4 linked regions of the Homo sapiens genome follow. The protein of the gene in region 1 purifies or fractionates together with the protein of each later gene. This does not show direct contact. Each region holds a gene or a part of one and is shown on either strand. Other genes may lie near its edges.

Region 1 (5,679 bases):
TGTGGCCCAGAGAAGGGAAGTGACTTGCCCAAGGTCCATGGCTATTTTAATAGTAGATTTAGACTAATTTCCAAGTGTCTAGTATCTGAGCCAGGCAATTAGGGCTTGGTAGCTTTTGGAGGACATTAGTGTAGAGAATTTGGTACCTGATGCCCACTCCTCTTCCAATTCTTATTTAGGGTTTAATCTCAGGCCTCCTGCCTCTCACCTACTCCCTTTTTTAATTGTCCTGTCTGAACTAAAAGCTCTTTCTACAGTGGATATTGAGTCGGGGAGTGGGAGTGAAGTCCTCAGGCAGCAGCCTAGTCAGAATAACTCCTCTGGAAACAAAAAACCTACCCTCCCTCTGCACACGCCACACTCATTCCCACACCACACTCCTCCTCCCCCATGAGTGAACGGCTCTTACCAGAGTACCTGCCCACAGCTGTATCTGGGCCCTAAGAAAGCAGCACCCCATGCCAGTGGCAGAGCAAGAGCTCCAAGCACTTGTTCTAAGTATCTCGGGCCATCTTTGGGGAAGGGATATGACAGCGTAAGGAAAGGAAGAGAGCTCAAATCCATCCCTGGCTTGCAGAAAGCAACAACAGTGGGTGCAGTGGACCGTTTGACAGACACCAGCAAGTACACCGGCACCCACAAGGAGCGCTTTGATGAGAGTGGCAAGGGCAAGGGCATTGCGGGACGGGAAGAGATGACTGACAACACAGGCTATGTGAGTGGTTACAAGGGTTCTGGCACCTACGATAAGAAGACCAAGTAGAGAGGAGCTTCATCTCAGCCTGCTAGCCCCCTGACCCTGCATGTTTAACACCAGGGAGCTTGGAAAACAATAAACATCTGTGTGTGCAGCAGCCAAAATCTCTGTCTGTGAGGGACAGATGAGCCTACTAGTGTAGAGAGAGGGAGAAGAGGCAGCACAGGAGGGTGGGTTCTCCACCACACACCCTTCGCTCTGCTTAGCCTTATGCCTACCAGCCATCAGTTAGCATTCCTCCTCAACAGCTGCTTCCAAGAACAGGATGGAAGAATATATTTGGAGTAAAGAGATGAACCAGATGTGGAGGTAAAAGTATCTACTACTTGTGTTCACACATTACTGATATCCACCTCTCCACCCCCACCCCTCAAAAGGGTGTAGCAATTCCTCACGTGATGGACTATGACTATATCACATATTAGATCCTTCCCTGTCCCTCCACCTTCCTCATCTGTTGCAATTCAGGTTTTTTGGGTGGAGGAGTAGAAGCCAGCTAAGGTTGCCTGACTTCTATTACAAATTTGTTCCAGAGCTGGGGTAAGGGGAGAGTCTATTTTCAACACCCAGCCCAGAACTAAGTTTTACCCCACATCACCTCCATCATGGGGCACATGGGACAGAAGAGCTTACTGACTGCTAAGGGTAGCTCAGGAAGATGGCCAGATGAGGCAGGCTGCCAGGATTCCAAGAGCAGGAGTTCTGGTGCACTGAAGAAAAAGCAATTAAATCACAACAGAGTCAGATGTGTGTTATTAACTTTTTATTTTGAATTGATTATGGGTTGACAGGAAGTTACAAAAAATGGTACAGAGGGGGCTCGTGTGCCCTTCACCCAGTTTCCCCCAATGGTTACATCTTACATACTCAGATGTGGTTTTAGAAATTTATGTTCGATTAGAGCCGGGCCTGCCTCATTCGCTGCCTGGTCAGGGGCAGACTCTGGAGTCTGGGGGATTTGGGAGGAGCTTCTGGAAGAGAAGGGAAGCAGGAACCTCTGGGGAATGGGTGAGAGAAGATACCTTGAAATGCCAGTGAGCCAAGGTAAGAAGACTGGAAGAAAAAGAGGTTGGAAAAAGGAAGGCAGGGTGACTACGGTTGTTGGGAGTGTGGGGGAGACAGTCCTAGGCTCCATGGTAAGAGGAAGCAGGAGAGGACAGTTATATGAAGGGAGAAACCATGATTTCACAGAGAGAAGCAGGCTGGAAACTGGGGGTTGTGGGGAAGTGAGGCTAACATGAGTCTGAGGGCCTCAGGGAGGTTCCTATAGCTAGCCATATCCCCTGAGTAGGTGGGTGAGTGGAGGGAATTATAAGGGAACTGGGGGAGGCTGACATGAGAAGGCTGGTGGGGATGGGGAGGTGAGACTCGGAGCTGGTGCCTGTTGCCATGGTGTGAGCTGAGGCCCTGGGCCTCCATCCAGGACTTAGGATCTGGCCCAGTGGGTGGACAGTCACTGCCAACTGGACACAGTCAACTTCTTGGGTGGGTTTTACTGTCTCTGGGAGAGGAAGGATGATGAGGAGGTGGGGGCGAAGAGGGGGTAAACAAGCTGGAAAGAACCTAGAAGATAGCACCACTTTGCATGGTGATCAAAGCCCTGGACATTTTCGCACCCACCTGGTCTCTTGGGAGGGGACCCTGCCTGCCTCGTAAGTCAGGAAGGAAGTCTTGTTACAGGGATCAGAGTGTTGGAAATGGAGACAGCTGGCCTGTGGTGGTAGAGGTTGGGGAGTGGCTCAGGAATTAAATTCCCGAATAGAGACCAGCGATACCTATTGGATCAGCTTCATACTTGCGGGAGCAGAGTAGGTAGAGCTTCTGGTTGGTTAGGGTGCTATTGTAGTAGCAGCTAGTGGGTGGCTGTTGGTGGCTCAGGGAGCAGACCGTGATGGGGAGGGAATCCTGGGTGAGTGTGCAGTATTCATTGTAATTCTCACAGAAGCTGTCACTATACTTGCAGAACTTCTGGATGGCCTTCCAAGGGGCATGTATCACATAATGGATCTTTGGGCAATCTGAATTTTGCATCTTGCCTCGCATATAGGACATCAGACCATTACAATAGCCCCGGAAACCCTTTGGGTAGTTAACCCTGGGATAGTCAATGCTTAAGGTATAGAAGTTCCTGCTGCCAATCTGCATCTTGATGTCCATGACCAGAGTTGGCCCCAGAACAAGCTGGAGGAAAAGGAGCCGGGTCACAGCTGGTGCCATTCCTCCTGCTGGTAGAGTTAAGGTGGTTGGGGGCAGCAGTGGGCCTGAAGTGGCTGTCTGCCACATCCCAGAGCCTCCAGCATTCCCAACCCAACAGTACTTTAGAGATCATCTCACCCATAACCAAGTTCTCATGACCCAGAAAGAGGAGATGCTTGCCCAAGGCCACCCAGACAACCAGCCACCTTCAGCCAGCCCTGCTCCCCTGGTCCACCACAGAATCTCAGCCTCTGCAGAGTCCGTGAGCTACATTTGCAGAATAAGAGCTCTAACTGGTCCTTGGGTGAGAGACTCTTCCCAAGAGTCCTTGGGCCCCTGGCACTCCTGCTAGTAAAAAATGCAGAGAAGAAAGAAGGAGCAGGCTGACCTGACAATTCTCTGGCAGCTGGGAGGAAGGACAGGAGCTGAAGATAGCTGGGTAGGGACGTGTATTCTTCTTGCCAAGGCCAAGACAGTCAAGAGATGAGGAGAGGCTAGAAAGGTTTCTAGGTAAAAATCAGTCTGGGAGGAGGGAATGTCCCCGAGTTTGATGAGCCCCTGTGCTAAGAGGGTTGGATGGGTGGGAGGAAAGAGGCATTACTATCTGGTCTCCTCCTCTACAGTGTCATTGGAACACTTACTTCCAATCTCCTTGCCAAAAGTTCCTAAGTGCCTGGGCTTTCTTTGATGTTTTCTCTGTTCCATAGCCTGTGCTCTCGTGGCAAGGTGAGTAGGAAAGCACTGTTATGTTTCTGAGGAACAAAGTGCTTCTTATTCCTGACCCTCAGAGAACAGAGCATTCGCCACTTTGTCATCCCACTCACGGGAGCCCAGGAGGGCATGTACTCAGGGGCCTCCCACCAAAGTGCTGGGCTGAGAATCAAAGACCTCCATGTGGACTCCCCACGGTCCCTATCAGCCTTACTCCTGTCACACCCACAGCCTTCACCTGTGACCTCAGGCCCTGTCAGAGTTTGAGCACTACTGGAAATCTCTGCATGCTGACTCTGAAGCCTCAAACTTGGCAGTTTGGATTTGAAAGCATAACCTGAACATGAAAAGCTGTGGATGCCAGAGCCTGGCATGATCCGTTTCGTACTGTTGGTTGATCTCTGAGTGGTTTGCCATGCTGGGGAAAGGGCCACGCTCCTATCTTTTTCATCAACATCTTCCCTTTCATCAGAATCAAAGAGCCAGCTCCCTGGAAACTGCTAGCTCTTGCCCTTGACTTCCACAGGTCACTCAGCCTTGTTAGTCTGCAAGGTGTCTTCCAGATTTGGGGCCTCCTCTTAGGAGAGCCTTTTTACCTTTGCTGGGCAGCAGAAAAGGGGAGTCAGAACACAGAAAGCTGAGTGCTCCAACACCCTCAGTATAGCTCAGGAGGAGGGAGTAAGGCCGCAGAGAGAAAGATTGGTGTTCCTCATGTAGAGCCCCCTAAACTGGCACTTTCTGACAGCACAAACCACAGTCCAAAATGGAATCCATCCTCCCCATAACTTGTTTCTCTTCCTGTTTTGTCAACTCAGTTTCCCTGGTTACCTATGCAAGAAACCTGAAAGTGATCCTAGACCCCTCCACCTCCCCAATCCCAGCTACGGGGAGGCGGTCCTGCATGGTGGTTAAGATCAAGGCTTTTGAGTGAAACAGACCAGGAATTGAATCCTGCCTCTGCAGCTTACAAACTGCACACCATCTATCTGTTTACGAAACCACTGAAAGCTTCCTTGTTTCATCTGTTCATGAGGATAGTATTTTTTACCTCACGGCAGTATGAGGATCCATTAAGATGTATATCAAGAGTTTTTAGACCAGTGCCCGGCACATGGTGAGTCCTCAGTATGAGCCTGAGTCCATCAGTCACACAGCCCTGACAATCTTAAACTTTTCCCAAGCCCATCTCTTCCATTCTTATTTCTTCCTCAGTGGATGCTCTCGTCTCGCCTGGACAGCACACACACTCCAACTCCAGTAAGACTCAACTCAAATATATCTCTTATACAACTTCAAGAGAAAAAGTGTGATCCCTTCTTTCGTCTAAAAGTCTGCAATAGCTTGTTTCTCATAGGGTAGGGGTGCCCAGTCTTTTGGCTTCCCTGGGCCACATTGGAAGAAGAATTGTCTTGGGCCGCACATAAAATACACTATCACTAACGATAGCTGATGAGCTTAAAACATGCAAAAAAATTCATAATGTTTTAAGAAAGTTTACGAATTTGTGTTGGGCTGCATTCAAAGCCATCCTGGGCCACATGTGACCCGCGGGCCATGGGTTGGACAAGCTTGTCGTAGGGTATAGTCCAAACTACATCTCACAGGACATAAGACTTCCCATGATCTTGCACCTGCCCATGTGTACAACTGCATCTGCATCCCTGCCTGCTTCCCACCTTGTCCCCCACCTCCTCTATGCCCTATCTGCTGCTGTCTCCTCTACCTGGAACCCTGCTGCTGCACCGTTCCTCGCCCCCATCTATTCCATGGTGCTAGCTCATAGAAAGACTCAACCCAGAGGTCCCACTTAGAAAGCCTCTGCTGGGAAGACCTCGCCAAGGAAGTGGGCACCGTCAAGCAAGTGAGGATAGAGCCCACATGGGCAGGTGGCTCATCTGTATTCTTCAGGCTGCTCAACAAGACAACACTGAGCGGGTGCCAATGCAGGGTGTCGCCTGAGCCTGGCTGACTCAGGCCTTTGCTTTGAGGAAGCCAACCACATTGTGGTCCCTGCC
Region 2 (5,295 bases), on another chromosome or scaffold:
AAAATAAAATTTCAAATGACTGACCTCAAACACTAGACTGGGGATTTGAGGAAATTCTCCATCATATCTTCACATTGCTATATTTTACTGTGCTCTTCAAAATGAACTTACAAGGAAAAATTTAGTCTAACCTTCAGCCACTGTCATTAAATTACTTTTACCACTCTCCTCCATTTTGTGAAACAGAAACATGTGTCCACTTCCTATGTACTTTCAGTTCTGACAGGTTGAGTGCCTACCACAAGATTACAACTGTAATGGTGTTGTTGCAGTGACACAATGATGGGAAACAGACGGCACCTTCAACTGTAGCTCACTGGAATCCTCCAGGATTGGGAATTCAATCTTAAAAGTTCCACTTTGGGGGACAGTATAATTTATTTTCTGAACAGCTTCCATTTTCTGATTTCCACTGTTAGATCCGCTCCAGTACTCAGTATAGTTTCTCTGTGTCACTGTTATGACTACATTATTTCTTCTTTCTTCAAGAGTCAGTTGGTTGCCATCAGCACGAGTTACCTTCACCTAATGGTCAAAACAAAACATCTTAAAAACACAAAGGATTTAAGTACGATTAAATACAGTTTCCGTCTGTAGTATTCTCATGAAATTGAACTCTCAAAAATTATTGGTAGCACTATAATATCCAGATTCAGTGGCCTCTCTCTAGGAGGCATCCAACATCACTGATTACTCCCTTGTTAATATTATGGATTCCCTTAACTTCCGCGGCTCCAAAATAACCCCCTTCACTTCCTACCTCTCTTTCTGCATCCTCTCAGTGTCCTTTTCAGTTCCTCTTTCCTCTCCCTAAATGTGGGAATTTTGGACATCTGTTCTTCTCCCTTCCTCCAAGGTCTCAGCAATCCTATTGCTTAGCTTGTCATCTCTGTGATTGTACCCTAAAGCCAAAATTCCCATCCTTGCCCTTCTCTGGAGTTCATGCCCAACACCTCCAGTTACCTGCAGGAAATTTCTACTTGGATATCCTGGACACCTTGAATTCACATATCTAAAATGAGCAACCATGTCATTTTCCTATTTTCGCTAACATCAGGATTTTGCAAGACTTTACATTTCTGAATTTTCCCTCCCTCTCCCCACCCCCCAAATCCAATGAACACCAAAGTCCTATGCTTCTCTCTTCCATCCTCTCCACTCCCACAGCTACCACCACAAGGCTGCCCATCCCCTCACTCCTGGGCTACAGCCATCCTCCTGCACACAGCCTGAGCAGTCTCCCTCAAACACTACCTGAGTGCACCCCGAAATTGCCAGCCAGACCTCTCCTTCTTGTCTCACTTCTTATCTTGCTCCCCACCTCCCACTCCCATGCCCAAGCATTTAAAACACAACTAATCTTTTAAAAAACAGTTTAGACCATCCTCTTCCATAAAGCATCCCATAGTAACCCCCATGCCTATCCCACAGCCAACTCTCCCCCTCTGAACGCCCATGGTTTCACTCTACTCATTCAGAAATTACCATTTGCAGCCTCAATTTTTTAAACTGACCTTTTCAAACTGCCTAAATTAAGATCATTGAAATCAGAAACTACCTGAAACGTCTACCGACCCATTCAACAAGTGACCCCTCCATTCTTTCTTTGTCGTTTTAGTTGTTTTTTTTTTTTTTTTTGAAATGGAGTTCCACTTTTGTTGCCCAGGCTGGAGTGCAATGGCGCAATCTCCACTCACCACAACCTCCGCCTCCCGGGTTCAAGCGATTCTTCTGCCTCAGCCTCCCGAGTAGTTGGAATTACAGGCATGTGCCACCACGCCCGCCTAATTTTTTGTGTTTTTAGTGGAGATGGGGTTTCTCCATGTTGGTCAGGCTGGTCTCGAACTCCTAACCTCAGGTGATCCGCCTGCCTCGGCCTCCCAAAGTGCTGGGATTACAGGCATGAGCCACCACGCCAGGCCTGACTCCTCCTTTCTTTAAATCAGAGATCAGCCAACTACTGCAAGCTGATAGGCCAATCCAGTATGTTTGTAAACAAAGTTTTACTGGAACACATTCCACTCTCACTTATTTATAAATTGGCTATGGCTGCTTTCACACTACAATGGCAGGGCTGAGTAGCTGTGACAAAGACCACATGGCCACAAAGCTGAAAATATTTACTCTCTAGCCCTTTGCAGAAAAAGTTTGGCAACCCCTGCTTTAAATCCCTACAGAAATTAATTTGTAACACTAATCTTAATCTGCCATGAGTTATAGTTAAGTATATATTTTCCTGTCACCATCACAAAAACTGTGAACCTGAGGGTAGGGACTGAGCCCTTCTTGGCTCTATAGCCCTGCCCAACACCATGCCTTGCTCATTGTCAACATTCACACAATTAATGTGTTAATTCAACATTATCTCCAAAAAATGAGATTTGTTGATAATTTTTTAATGTAACATCTTTGTTAGAACTACAATTAATCATTATAAAAACCAAATTGAAATTGAAATTTTTGACTACCATGTAATTATTTCAATTAATTAATAAAAGCTTCAGTGTAGCAATCCACATCTAACTTAAATTGCTTGTAAAAAAAAATACATTTTCAAAAAATATTTTTACTGTTGTTGAAAACTACTTTTTTAGAAAAAATAGACAAAGGTCATTTGGAAACAAATCTACATGCCCCACATGTCTAAAGAGACAAAGTTATATACTTTTTGGCTTAAATTTTTAGAAAAGCATTGAAAATATTATTTCCCATTCTATTTCATTAAGCTGAACTTACTGCTATGGACTGGAAATAAATATACCAACTTACAGTGGCTGTGAAGTTGAGAGATGGCTTCAAGACAGTAGTATAATCAAAAAACTCAATGATGTAATCATGTTGCTTGAAGAACACATTAGTGCTTACATTTCTTGAAATACCTTTTTTGGAAATTGCACAATTTAGAAAGCAAAAGTAATGTTTCACCCAAAGCTTCTATCCACCAAATCTCTCCATCTAACCTATTGCAAAAAGGGTTAAAAATATCAGGGCACATAAGCCTCATTCCCATATTGACTTTGACACTACAAGCACCACACAGTTCTATTATGTTCTCTATGGATCCCCTCTAAGCACCATTGCTGCCATTCTACCGCAGTGACATGTACAACAGCAGCAAATTAAGGCCAATGAAAGAATAGTCTTTTGCTCTTTCAGGGATTGGCTAAAGTTGTTGAAATAGTAACAGAAAGGTCCAAGAAACTCAACTTTATTTTCTTATTAAAAGTGAAAACTGTCTAGGAACAGCTGAGATTTCAGTGATTTTAAAAAGAAGAAGGTTACCAGCTGAAAATGTAAGCCTTTCCATGTAGTTTTCAGGGGGAAAGAGTAGAAATGGAAAAAAAAATTAAGAAGAGCTATCACATGTGGTTGAAGTAGTGACTTTCATAGAAAATAAGGTCCCCCTTATAAAATCATCCTGCAACTTAGACTAACAGTCATAACAATTTCAACATTAAATAGCATCTTTAGAAAGTCAATGATGCTCCCAAATGAAAGTGCCAGTTATAATAAGAAAGATGATAAAGCAGTGTCACATGAATAGTTTTACCTCCACTTTAAAGTCTACAAACCTGTAACTGATTCTGTCACTGTGGTTAAAATTTCTACTGGTCCAGGGGAAGATAGATCCAGGTATTCAGAAAGTCCATTTGAAGAATCCATTACATTTTTCATCTCTTCATCATTAAAAGAGAAGTTTGCAGATCCATTTATCTGTTTTGTTTAAAAGTTCAGTATTATTTACCATTTTAGCAATTCAAATTTTAGAAATAAAACTCAAACTAAGTCACAACAATATGATAGCTCTGGTACCATTTTAATCGCTATAATTGCATAAATTCTCATTTGTTCAATGCTGGAAAGCTCTTGATTTTCTTACACTTAACTTTTTGTTAATTCAGTACTAAATCTTATTTCTAGAAAAATACACATATTTTACCCATCACAAGTTATAAAGTGTCTGCAAAAGTTACCTTAAATGTTTTTGTAATATTTTTCTTCTTTCCCCAAAAGGATAAAGGTAAAAATGTAAGCGTTACGTCTCCTTTCACTGGCTTCCCATATGTATACCTGAATAATTATAAACATAGTCTTTTTATGTATCAACTTGATATTGTCAGAACACAATAAAAATACTACTTTCAATAGCATACATTAGCAATTAGCAATCTAACATTTTAAAAAATTACATTGGGCTGGGAGCGGTGGCTCACGCCTGTAATCCCAGCACTTTGGGAGGCCGAGGCGGGTGGATCACGAGGTCAGGAGTGCAAGACCAGCCTGGCCAACATAGTGAAACCCTGTCTCTACTAAAAATACAAAAATCAGCTGGGCATGGTGGCAGGCACCTGTACTCCCAGCTACTTTGGAGGCTGAGGCAGGAGAACTGCTTGAACCCAGGAAGTGGAGGTTGCAGTGAGCCGAGATCGCATCACTGCACTCCAGCCTGGACAACACAGCAAGACAGCAAGACTCTGTCTCAAAATAAATAAATTAAAAAAAAATACATTATGGGATGGCAAAACACTAAAAAGAGAAAATTTTAAAAAGAAAAAAGTTACATTAAAAACATACTCCTACTATAATTTTTTAAACTAAACCCAACAAAAATGTCTTTAATAAACGGTGATCCTGGATGGGCACGGTGGCTCATGCCTGTAATCCCAGCACTTTGGGAGGCCGAGGCTGGTGGATCACGAGGTCAGGAGTTCAAGACCAGCCTGGCCAAGATGGTGAAACCCCATCTCTACTAAAAATGCAAAAAAATTAGCCAGGCGTGGTGGTGGGTGCCTGTAATCCCAGCTACTTGGAGGCTGAGGCAGAGAACTGTTTGAACCCAGGAGGTGGAGGCTGCAGTGAGCCAAGATCGTGCCACTGCACTCCAGCCTGGGCAACAGAGTGAGACTCCAACTCAAAAAATAAATAAATAAATAAAAAATAAATGGTGATCCTTGAAATTAAGTTTCCAAAATGGGAAGACTTTTAACTATAGTAGCTTAAAACAGTTCTTAACACACACTCTGCCCAACCTCTGACCATCTGAAAGACTCCAGAAAATACCTGATCATAATTGGAAGTGACAGTTTCCTGTCCAAAGATTTTTTAAAGATTACATAAATCTTTCACTCCTAGAAATCTGGACTGGCCCATTAACTGAATGCCCACGAAACTTCGCAGCTTTAGAAGATTTTTAAATGTCAGCTGATAGTGCAATCACCATGGTCTATTGCTACATGTTCCAATATTAGCGAGGAAGGTTTATTACACCATAGATTCTGAAGCACCAAATGTGCT
Region 3 (5,295 bases), about 38 Mb from region 1:
GGATTAAGAGCGTTATATTCAGAAAGACATACAGGGTAGGTAGTCAGGGCAGGGATAAACATTTGGGAGTCATCATCAGTAGATGGTTGAGAACTGAAGCCTAGGAAGTGGATGAAATTGCCCAGCAGCATCAAACTGTAGAAGAGATGAGAAGGAAGGTGGGGATGAAGTGACGGTAACATCTAAATGGAAGGACAGGGAAAGGAAGCTGCAGCAGGGGAAGAAACTGAGAAGGTACCATCAGGGAGCCTGGACGGGCCCACACAGACAGGGAGAGAGCATGATGCAAGTGAAGACATTCTGGCAAGCATGATCAATAACTATAAAACAAGTAACTGGAAACATTAACTTCAGCATATCTTTTTATGTTCTAATTTTTAAAAGAATAATAACTGAAGCTAAAGGTAAAATGTCAAATATTGTTAGGGTATAATACTTTATCTTTTTATATCTTTTTATAAAGCTGCTGTAGTGTGACAGGTCCTTCACCAGGTTATGTAAGGGTGTATGTCCACTGCTTGAACCCTGAAGGCTGGGGGGTAAGCCAAGGGCATGGTGCCCAGCCAAGAAGCAGGTATCCCTGAGAACCCAAATATCCCAGAGAATATCTGGGAACATACCAAGGAAAACAGTCCTATCACACATACACAGTAGGCAAAGAGCCAGAAAATTAGCTTAAAAGCAGCTTAGAGTCAGGAGGCAGGATGGGTCTCCACAGTTGTTCAGCTGCTTCCCAGGAGTGCCTTATATGGAAGTTCTAATAAATGCATCTACTTGCCAACCTGGACTTGTCTGAGTCATTCTTTGGTCTCTCGGCTCCCTCTCTATTTGGGGGGACATTGCAATCCCAGATTCTTCTCATAACAGCTCCTATAATATAAAGCCTCATTGACCTTTTGCTTTGTCTGACAGCAATATAATATAATGCTTAACAGCATGTGGTCTGTTCAGAGACCCACCTTCATGACCTGGATCTGCTACTCACTAACTAACCTCTGGTAAATTACCTAACTTCTCCAATTCTCCGTTTTATCATCTATTGAAAAACGATAATAACAGCACAGTACTGACCTTGTAGGATTCTTGTGAGGATTAAATGAGATGGCATGTATCAAGTGCTTAGCTTGGAAACTGATGCACAGTGAAGTATCCAATAAATGTATGTTGTTATTTTTATGTTCCATTTCAGATTTTGAAGACAGTATGTTCCAAATTTTTGCATACAACATAAATGGTTTCACATGTTTCAGATCACTATATGATGTAGAGATCCTTAAGGAAACTCTAATATTCAGAAACACCAAATCTTAAAAACAGCTATATTAGGATAGATTGTTTGCTATGTTAAAGGACTCTTTATGAGTAGAATAATTTACTGAATGTAGATCATTCTGTAGTAGATTTCATTTACTACTGAGATAAGATTCATTACTTAGCTGTTAGCACATTTAAAATTTTATTCCATTACAAAAATTTGATGTTCCACAACTTTTCAGGGCTTTCACATCCTATTATATCAAATAAAACACTATTATAAAATAAAACAAAAAAACAAAAAAAAACCCCAAATCCTAATGGTTCTCAAACCTTTTGGTCTTAGGACCCTTTTATACCTTAAGATTTGAGGACCCCAAAGAGTTTTTCTTTATATAAGTTATATCTATCAATATTTACTGTATTAGGAATTGGATATATCTGTTCATTACTTCATTTTAAAAATAACCCATTATACATTAACATATGAATAACACATTTTTGTGAAAATAACTGTTTGCCAAAACAAAAAAAATTATGAGAAAAGTGGCATTGTTTGATATTTTTGCAAACCTGTTTCATGTCTGGCTTAACAGAAGACAACTAGGTTCTCATATCTAGCTTCTGCATTCAATTGGTTGGGTTATCACATATCACATCGTAGCCTCTGAAGAACCCCACTGTACACTCTTGAGAGAATGAGAGTGAAAAGCAAATAATGTCATTATTATGAACACAGTTTTGACCCTCTGAACCCATGGAAAGGACCTTAGGGGCCCGCTGGGGCCCCAAGACCACACTGGATAACCAATGTCCTAGTTGAAAAGAAGTTTTTACAGGCCTGCTTTAAAATTCTCTTCTGAGAGCTGAGTGAAGAAATTTATCAAACACCCAACTCAGGCCTCTCCAGTCTCATGAGTGACACATTTATAAATAAGAAGCTAAGGGTGCCACTTACCCTCACAGCTTTCCCTGTGAATACTGAGCCAGTTGCACTGCTTTTGAAGGCTCTCATCTGGTTCAGTTCCAGAAGCCCTTTGTGATACTGTAAGGCAATTCGGGCTGTCACTCCTGAGCCAGTGGGACTTCTGTCAACCTGTTTCAGAATAAATGAAGACAGAATGTTCATAGTGTGTTCCATATTACCTGGCTTTTGTCCCTAAACATTACAGTTTTAATACCTGTTCATCTGCAAAAACACAAATGTTGGTGGTTGGTTCCTTGGTATAAGCATCTTTTCCATCTGTTAATATAGTTCCATATAAAAAGGCAAGGTCTTCACTATCAGGATGATTAATTTTAAACTGCAAGTAACAAAAAAAGATCACATGCAAAATAAATATTTTGATTCAAATTTATAAATAATGCAGATGGGTCATTCTTAGACATAACTTTTTAATCCTTATCATTTTTAAAATACCTTTTTGGGCAACGTATACTAATTGCTAGAAATTATGTCTTTGTCTAGATGAAGAAACATAGTTTTACTGCAATTTATAATTCTTATCATACTTTGAGTCCCTTCTAAGGAAGCTGTCCTGCATATAGCCTTTGCTAAAAAAGCAGTCCTATTTTATACACCCCTCCCACCCCAAATACACATAGTCTTTGCAGCACTGACCCCAGGATGGTCAATCCACAGGCTGGCGATGGCTGCTCAAACAGGATGAGCTAAGGCAATCATAGTCTTATTCTCAGGAGCTTAAGGAGGATAATGTGGGAAAATCAGGCTCTGAGTATCTAGAGCTGAAGTTAACACCAATGATAGAGACAAAGGCTGTGAGAGGATATAACATTCTGTAAGAATGCAGAAACTATTAGGCAAGAGAAACAATTGGAGGAAAAAAAGATTTATTGTAGACGATGAAGTCAGTTGATTCATCAAAAAGCAGCAGATATGCACACAAAGAAGCAGGCACTGGCAGGGTAGCTAAGTCACTCAATGGTAGATTCAGGCCCAAATATGCAAAGCTACTTGTTCTTGGAAGTCTAGTTCTTTAACTTTTCCTGGATTTCTGCAAACATTTACAGTATGACTGAGATTGCTATAATCTGACTTCCCTTGTATATGCTTACAATTAGTACTTTCTACTTCCAGTTACATGTCATTTAAAGCAATGGAACAGCTTTGGGTTCTTAACATCCAAAGAGTCCATCTGAAACCAAGTTAAAGCGGCCTGCAGATTGAATCTTTGTTCTCCATCCTCTTAAAGTGATACGCCCCACCTCCACTATAGCACATTCCAACATAACACTGTTCACAGGTATGCTCGCTTCCCCAACTGGAGCTAGCTCCTCAAAGGTGGGGTTTGTTCTTTCTTCGAGTCTCCAGGATCTAGCAGAATGTCTAACATATATACAGTATGTTTGTGGTAAATGTTTGTTAAAAGAGTGAATGAATTAAGATGAATTTATATTAACTTTAACTCTCCATCCCCATGGCCTTTTCCTAAATCTGCTTCAGCAGTGTGAATAGTCAACAGTTCACAGAGTAATTAATTGTACTGTCTGATACATCAATAACAGAACTTGTCCTCATTTTTCTCAGAATCCTTCCTCCCTCAAAGTCCACCCCTTGCCATCTTGTTGAGTTCAAACTCAAATGAGAAGTACAAAATTACACCTTTTATTAAGATATCCATGACTTTTTCTCTTGAATTCATGAAAAATTAGGAGAAATTATTTTGTGCCAAATTGTTAACTCAGACTATTAGCTGTCCTGCTTAATGGAACAGAAAACTGATGTAAATTCAGAGCTTCAAAAGTTGCTATCATAATATAATTGCACATATTGGTACTGGCAGTACCAGAAAAATAATTTAGAATACTGATACAGTGTATATTCTCATTTTAAGTTATAAATTATTTTAAAATAAAGCTTCAGAAAATGATAATTATTCGTACATTAGACACTATCTTACACAAGTTACTTTTTACTACTAATAAATTCTCACATACTAAATTCTCACGTACTAAACATTCAAATACTGTACATGTGTTTTATTTATAGGTCCCAATTTCAAGGTAAAATGTGCTTCACTCGTGCTAGAAGTGAAAGAATATCCTAGAATTATTATCTAAACTGATTTTATCAAATTAGCTTTCCCAAGTAAAAACTAGAGTTATTTAAGTAGTTATTTGAGTAACTTCTTAGCAATGTAGGAAAAAAATAATAGGAATTAATGTTCTCTATGAAATAAGAAAAAGGCTTAAATCTATTCTGTACACTATATTTTACATTTATTATTTTCAAGTTTAACAGAATGACCACACACATGCATTTAAAATTTGCAGAATTCTATAAATATATTTCTACACATTTAAGGAACTATAAACTATATTAGTATGTATGTATTATTAAATTTAGTAACTGCTAGGTGTGGTGGCTCACACCTGTAATCCCAACACTTTGGGAGGCCGAGCTGGGAGAATCACTTGAGGCCAGGAGTTTGAGGCCATCCTGGGCAACATAGTGACATCCTGTCTCTATATAAACACACACACACACTCACACAAACACAGATTTAGCTGGGTGTGATGGGGCATGCCTGTGGTCCCAGTTACTCTGGAGGCTGAGGCAGAAGCATCATTTTGAGCCTGGGAATTTGAAGTTACAGTAAGCTATGATCACACCACTGCACTACAGCCTGGGTGACAGAGCAAGACCCTGTCTCAAAAAAAATAATATTATCATTTACTGAACATTTACTATTGGCCAGACACTACTCTAAGTCCTTTACATGTATTGACTTATTTCATTCTCACAACCCTACAAAGCAGGTATTTTTTAATTTCCATTTTGCAGACAGGAAAACTGAGGCATATGGAGGTTACGTAACTTGCCCAAGGTTATATACGTTACCAGTGGTAAAGCTAGAACTCATAGATAGTTTTGCTCTAGAGCAGGAATGTCCAATCTTTTGGCTTCTCTGGGCCACACTGGGAGAAGAATTGTCTTGGGCCACACATAAGATACACTAACACTAACGAGAGCTGATGAGCTAAAAAAAAATTGCAAAAAAACTCATAATGTTTTAAGAA
Region 4 (5,295 bases), on another chromosome or scaffold:
TTTTCCAGCAACAGAAAGGATGCCCCAAGAGGACAGAGCCCACATCTCTTTTGGTGATGGTTTTATCCCCAGAACGAAAACACTCCCTGGTTCACAGTAATATTTGATATGGAAAGATGGGGTGGGGCAGAAGAGGTAAAAAAATTAAAAAAAAAAGAGGAAGAGTTGTTCTAAAATTAAATTGGGGTCTTTTGGAATATAAAATACTACCCTAAAATGACTATTCCCAAAAGAAATGGAGAGTTTGTAACAAATGTGATGAGAATTCTGAAGAGTAATGTATTTTTCATGAAATGATTTATTACTTTTAGAAAACAGTATAAACTTACAAACTATAAATTAAGATATAAGTATATTTCTGCCAAAGTAAGTCAAGAAAAATGCACTTCAGAATCAGCTTTTATTACAGGCAATGTATTGTAAACTCGAACATCCAGAATCTGAGTTACACTTATTATTTTTAACATTTTACTCAATAAAAATCTGATATACTGGGTCCAAGTGATGACACATTCCAAATTAATGTAACTTTCTTGCAGCTTAAATAAACAAATTTAGATCACCAAGTGAAATCAAAGCCAAGTGTATTTGCACAACTCAAGAATGATGTGAATGGATTAGAATCTCTCATAGTGTATACTTCGCCATTTATACACAAACTTTGAGAGTCTTCTGAGTGACATGGTATTTAACTTTGTTTCCAAGGGCCAAATACTAAAATGTATAGAATATCCTACTCTATACTCACTATTAAATGTCATGGACTAGGAAATCTGAGACACAGAATAAGAAGCAACTGATTACACACCCTAGTCATTTAAGTTGGAAGAGTTCTCTTAGGTGACTCTGGGTCAGGCCATCTTGATGAGCCTTAGACAAGTTTTCCTTCCCATAAATCCTGCTTTCTCAGGCAGAATCATATACCATAACTGAAAGGAAATGGCTGCTGATTATCTGCTCATTATCTTCTTTCATTCCCTGCAAAGACACCAAAAAAACTGATTTGTTTAGAACCGCCCCCCGCCCCTGCCCCACCCCACCAAAGGCACACAAGTAGATTGTTTGAATCCTTCAGATGAAGTCTGAAGATGAATCATCTGAAGAATCCTTCAGATGAAGATGAAAGGAGATCTTTCATCTCCAAAGATCAGGAGATTATGAGAAGGACAGAAAGAGAACCTGGTGATCAGACAGACACCATCCTTCGTGTTAGCCTTTTCCTGATCCAGAAAGAATCCAGCTTCTAGTTGTAAATGATCCCATCCCTACTTTCTAAAGTTAGCTGTTACTAGGGAGATGTTACAGAGAAGGAGCACGTATTAAATTTATGGTTCTCTTTTGTTTCTATTTCAACTAGCACATAATAGAATTCAAATCTTTCTCAAATACCTAGATTTTTCCTTTGTGAGCAAAAGACAAAGTATGGTTTAAGGGTTAGAGTCTATTAGATTCAACCTCATTTCTGCTCTGCCTTCTAGGGGTTTTTAGGCTTTCCTCAATATCAGAAGATAGGTGGGCTCCTCAGTCAACTATTGATAAACATTTATTTAGCAGAGGTCATGCATTTGCAGGGTCTTTGCTGCCTGCTAGATTATAAATGAACAATAAAATGTCGCTAATCTCTTAGTCCCAAGTTAACTGCTTCTTCTGTTTTCTACTGCACTCAGAATGAATGAATGAGTGAGTGAGTAAACGAATGAATGAAAGTTTGAATGCTTACCTAAAGGAAGACAACTGTTGTCTTTCTGGTGGACACTCAGTTAAGACTACAAAAGCTTAAGGTGATACTTAGAAATGCAGGAAAAAGAATCCACATACATTGTTTTAAAGTTTTATTTGCTTACAAAAGAAAATGGAAATAGGTTTGCGAAAACTTATCTGCATGTACAAAGTAATCCCCGTAGATAAGGAGAGGCAACCCCTGGAACACACTGCTGGATAAATCGTTCATTAAAATTATATCTCTTTGCATCAGAGCTGGTGGAAAATCATTATTTCACATGAGTTAAAACCACTGAAAAACTAAATCTGTTTCTTAAACTACCAAATTCAGAAAGCTTAAATCCAAATGCTGATTTTTGGATACACATGAAACCAGTTACCAAGTGATCTCAGAGTTGGACAGATCAATTAAACAAGAGGTAGTTTCTCCAATATTGTCCCTTTTTTTCTTATCAGCAAGGTTATTCCTACAGCAAGTAGGAGTAAGTGACATATTCTTTGAACCTCTTTGAATTCTTTTCCTGCTAGGGACATATTTCCCTCAAACACAATCATATCTGTTTGTTCATTTTAGGACTTGAGAGAGAAGATTCCAGAGTTCAATTTATTTTTCCCAATTCCTCTTTGAGCTCTCTTCTCTGGAAAAACAAATTATCTGACATGCCATTAAGACACCAAAGGGAAATCATTGCTACCATGTCATAGATTAAGGGAACTTTTTAAAAATATATATTTTTTGTTAATAATAATAATAATATTAACATTATCCAAGGAGGAGATTTAGGCTGCTGAAATGAGCCCTGCCCCCCAAAAGTAGCATACAAACCACATAACAACATTTTCTCAAACAAGATTCCTTAAGAGTTCTTGCAGTTGGTCTTCAAATTTCTCCTGAGGCTATCAGACTCCAGGGCCCCACAGTTCCATGGCTTCCAGCTCATCTTGGACAGGGGTGAACTCTGGCTGATCTGGATGGGGAGCTAAAGAGGAAAAGTGGGGGTGGGGACTTGCTGCACCCAGGAATCATAAATTGATATTCTCCCCTCACCTGGGTCCTTAGAGACACAGAGATATCCTGCTGGGTAAAAAGCAGTGGATGTCTTAATCCACCACGCCCCTTGTACCTTCCCCATAAGGTTTCAGACAGTTAGTAAATAGACGAAGGGAAAGATACATTACAGAAATTGTTAGAAAACTAGAATCATAACCAACCATTTAAATATTATGTTTTATTTACAGAAGAAACCCTGAAAACTCAGCAAAATTATAAAAGAAATAGAAATTTTTTTAAAAAATCTCATGTTAGAAGTCCATCACCAGGGAAGAGCAGGGAGGGGAGGTGATCAGGGGAGGAAGGGAGAGTAGGGTGGTCAAGGAGAAAGATGCCCATCCATCCTGTGTGGGGAGAGGAAGGAGGAAGAGGCACAGTTAAGTAACTTTATTATGAAGCTGTCACACAGGGGAGTCTGGGATAAATTCTTGGCACACGATCATATACCTCTATCCAGGCTGACATGGAGCAGTCAGTGTCTATTAAAATAGACATATATGATTTGGTTAAGTTCCGATGTTATCACTCCATCATGTTTGGAGCAGAGTGGGCAAGAGGTTTGAAAGTGGGAAGGCAGGGATGCAGAAGAAGCAGGGAAGCAGAGTGTCCATTGTTAGGGGCAGGGGCTTGGTGGTGGTGGTGGTTGACAGGACAGTTCTGTATCCACAGCTAAATGTCTGGGGCCAATGGAACCAGAGTGGAGGATTTCCACTTCAGTGCTGGTAATCATTGTAGGGGATCAGATCTTAATAAGGATAGGAGTATTTGAGAGAACAGGGAGGGAAAAGATGAACAGAGAAAAACACATCAGCAAAACTTTGTTGACCAATTCCTGTGATAACTAAGGTTAAATTTCTACTGAAGCAGAAAATTTTAAACCCATTAACTAGTAAGTTCATGGCCCCACAGCAGTCCCTCAGCCTCTCCCTTGATGCTTCCAAGAGTGACTATGTCAGAAAAGGGGCCATTGCACAGCACGCCAGCATGCACACTGCAGATGTTTTAGGAAGCATATTCTTTTAGTCCAGTAGCTAGTGATAAGACAAGGACAGCATGATTTTTGTTTCCTCTCACAACTATTCTTGGTCACCTAAAATGTGGTGCTTAAATGCACCTAAATGCAAGTGGTATGCATGATTTCATTGAAAATAATCTAAGGAGCCCTCTTAATTACGGGAGAAGTTCTAAGTTTGACATTTCCCCAAACCAAGAGTAAAATTTTATGGGACGTCTTGGCCACATCACAGCTGTCACATAAGAATGGAGACTCCAAAAGAATGTTCAACCATGTCCTCCAAATGTGCTAAATACAAAGTCAGAGGCCAAGTCTATGTAGGTCATCACTGGGAAGCAAGGAAGACTTAGATGTGCTGTTATTTTGAATTTGCTCTTAAGGTTTTTAAGGGAGTAGCCTCTATAGCAATTTGCACTTTATAGAAAATGTCTCGGGATAATTTAAGGAAGTGAGGCATTCAAGCTCTGCTTCCCATTCATAACCAATTTAACTTTTTTCATAGCACTATCTTCCCATTTTGGTACTAAGCATACTAAAACATTGATCAAAGCCCACAAGCGGGGCTTTTTGTGACACTTACCTCTCACACCATAGGCAGAACATGATGAGGGGTCACAATATCCAGGCTGGCCAGAAGGACCTTGGGGTCCAGGAACCCCCAGATGACCTGGTGGGCCTCTTGGTCCAGGAGAGCCAGGGGGCCCAGGGCTGCCAGGCCGACTCTCCCCTGAAGGTCCTAAGAAGTACCCACAGATGAAAACCGTTGGTCTTTTGCCACAACAGGGTGAGTTTTGAGACAACCAAGAAGTAAACTAACTCTTAGAAGAAGCAACTTTTAGGACAATTAGGACAACCTCTTTCTACTCATTGAGTTCTTTTTTGTAGACTGGATTCCCTAGGCAGAGGGTCATAGTGTAATCACTTATCCTCCTGGAGGTCAATGCTCTCAATCAGCTCAGGAAACTGGCAAGCAAAATGCATCTTTTCTATTTCCTCTTGGATGTTAAAGGGAAAGGAACCTTCCATTATCAACCTTATTTTCTTTTTGGAGCTTTTGTTTCCCAATGCAGTTCCTTATGAATCCAATCTATGGGCGTGCACACACACAGACACAAACATGAACACACTCAGAGCTCAACCTCATCATCTAGTTAGAATAGCCATGCAATTCAGTACCAGTTTATGGCCCCAGATAATTAAAGCTCAACCTCATCAACAGTTAGAATAGCCATGTAATTCAGTACTGGTTTATGGCCCTAGATAATTAAAGTAAATTTGTATGAGTGTGAAATTGTCCTGGAGGGGACCAATGACAAGTTTGACATTCGACCCAATATACTAATCCAAAATTTCTTTAAGCTAGTTTACATTAATTGAGAATTCAGACTGAGTAAAAATAGGAGGATTAAAACTGTTGTGAATTGAAGAAATTTGTCAGCATGTTTTTTTTTTTTTTTTTGGCTTGTATGCTTGTTTTTAGGTCCGGGTTCCAACAGTGTTGAAAAGG

The links.
Region 2: the proteins of RNASE13 (region 1) and CD109 purify together in Homo sapiens (affinity purification with mass spectrometry, with the first as the bait; one large-scale study listed by BioGRID). This does not show direct contact.
Region 3: the proteins of RNASE13 (region 1) and L3HYPDH purify together in Homo sapiens (affinity purification with mass spectrometry; one large-scale study listed by BioGRID and IntAct). This does not show direct contact.
Region 4: the proteins of RNASE13 (region 1) and COL14A1 purify together in Homo sapiens (affinity purification with mass spectrometry; 3 studies listed by BioGRID and IntAct, with this or other methods). This does not show direct contact.

The regions. Positions count from the first base shown.
Region 1 is NC_000014.9:21,031,315-21,036,993, forward strand, and holds RNASE13 (probable inactive ribonuclease-like protein 13 precursor), read right to left. Parts: upstream 3,494-5,679; 5' UTR 3,342-3,493; intron 2,983-3,341; 5' UTR 2,975-2,982; coding exon 2,504-2,974; 3' UTR 1,504-2,503; downstream 1-1,503. Other genes in the region: TPPP2 (tubulin polymerization-promoting protein family member 2), read left to right, coding at 578-763. UniProt on the Homo sapiens protein: Does not exhibit any ribonuclease activity.
Region 2 is NC_000006.12:73,761,160-73,766,454, reverse strand, and holds part of CD109 (CD109 antigen isoform 1 preproprotein), read right to left. Parts: intron 4,072-5,295; coding exon 3,975-4,071; intron 3,715-3,974; coding exon 3,573-3,714; intron 2,880-3,572; coding exon 2,770-2,879; intron 526-2,769; coding exon 301-525; intron 1-300. UniProt on the Homo sapiens protein: Modulates negatively TGFB1 signaling in keratinocytes.
Region 3 is NC_000014.9:59,473,657-59,478,951, forward strand, and holds part of L3HYPDH (trans-3-hydroxy-L-proline dehydratase), read right to left. Parts: intron 2,559-5,295; coding exon 2,436-2,558; intron 2,351-2,435; coding exon 2,213-2,350; coding exon of another isoform or gene 2,138-2,212; exon of another isoform or gene 1,944-2,137; coding exon of another isoform or gene 1,908-1,943; exon of another isoform or gene 871-1,907; coding exon of another isoform or gene 859-870; exon of another isoform or gene 1-858. UniProt on the Homo sapiens protein: Catalyzes the dehydration of trans-3-hydroxy-L-proline to Delta(1)-pyrroline-2-carboxylate (Pyr2C). May be required to degrade trans-3-hydroxy-L-proline from the diet and originating from the degradation of proteins such as collagen-IV that contain it.
Region 4 is NC_000008.11:120,368,559-120,373,853, reverse strand, and holds the end of COL14A1 (collagen alpha-1(XIV) chain isoform 1 precursor), read right to left. Parts: intron 4,525-5,295; coding exon 4,369-4,524; intron 3,519-4,368; coding exon of another isoform or gene 3,487-3,518; exon of another isoform or gene 3,118-3,486; coding exon of another isoform or gene 3,020-3,117; exon of another isoform or gene 2,703-3,019; coding exon 2,623-2,702; 3' UTR 281-2,622; downstream 1-280. UniProt on the Homo sapiens protein: Plays an adhesive role by integrating collagen bundles. It is probably associated with the surface of interstitial collagen fibrils via COL1.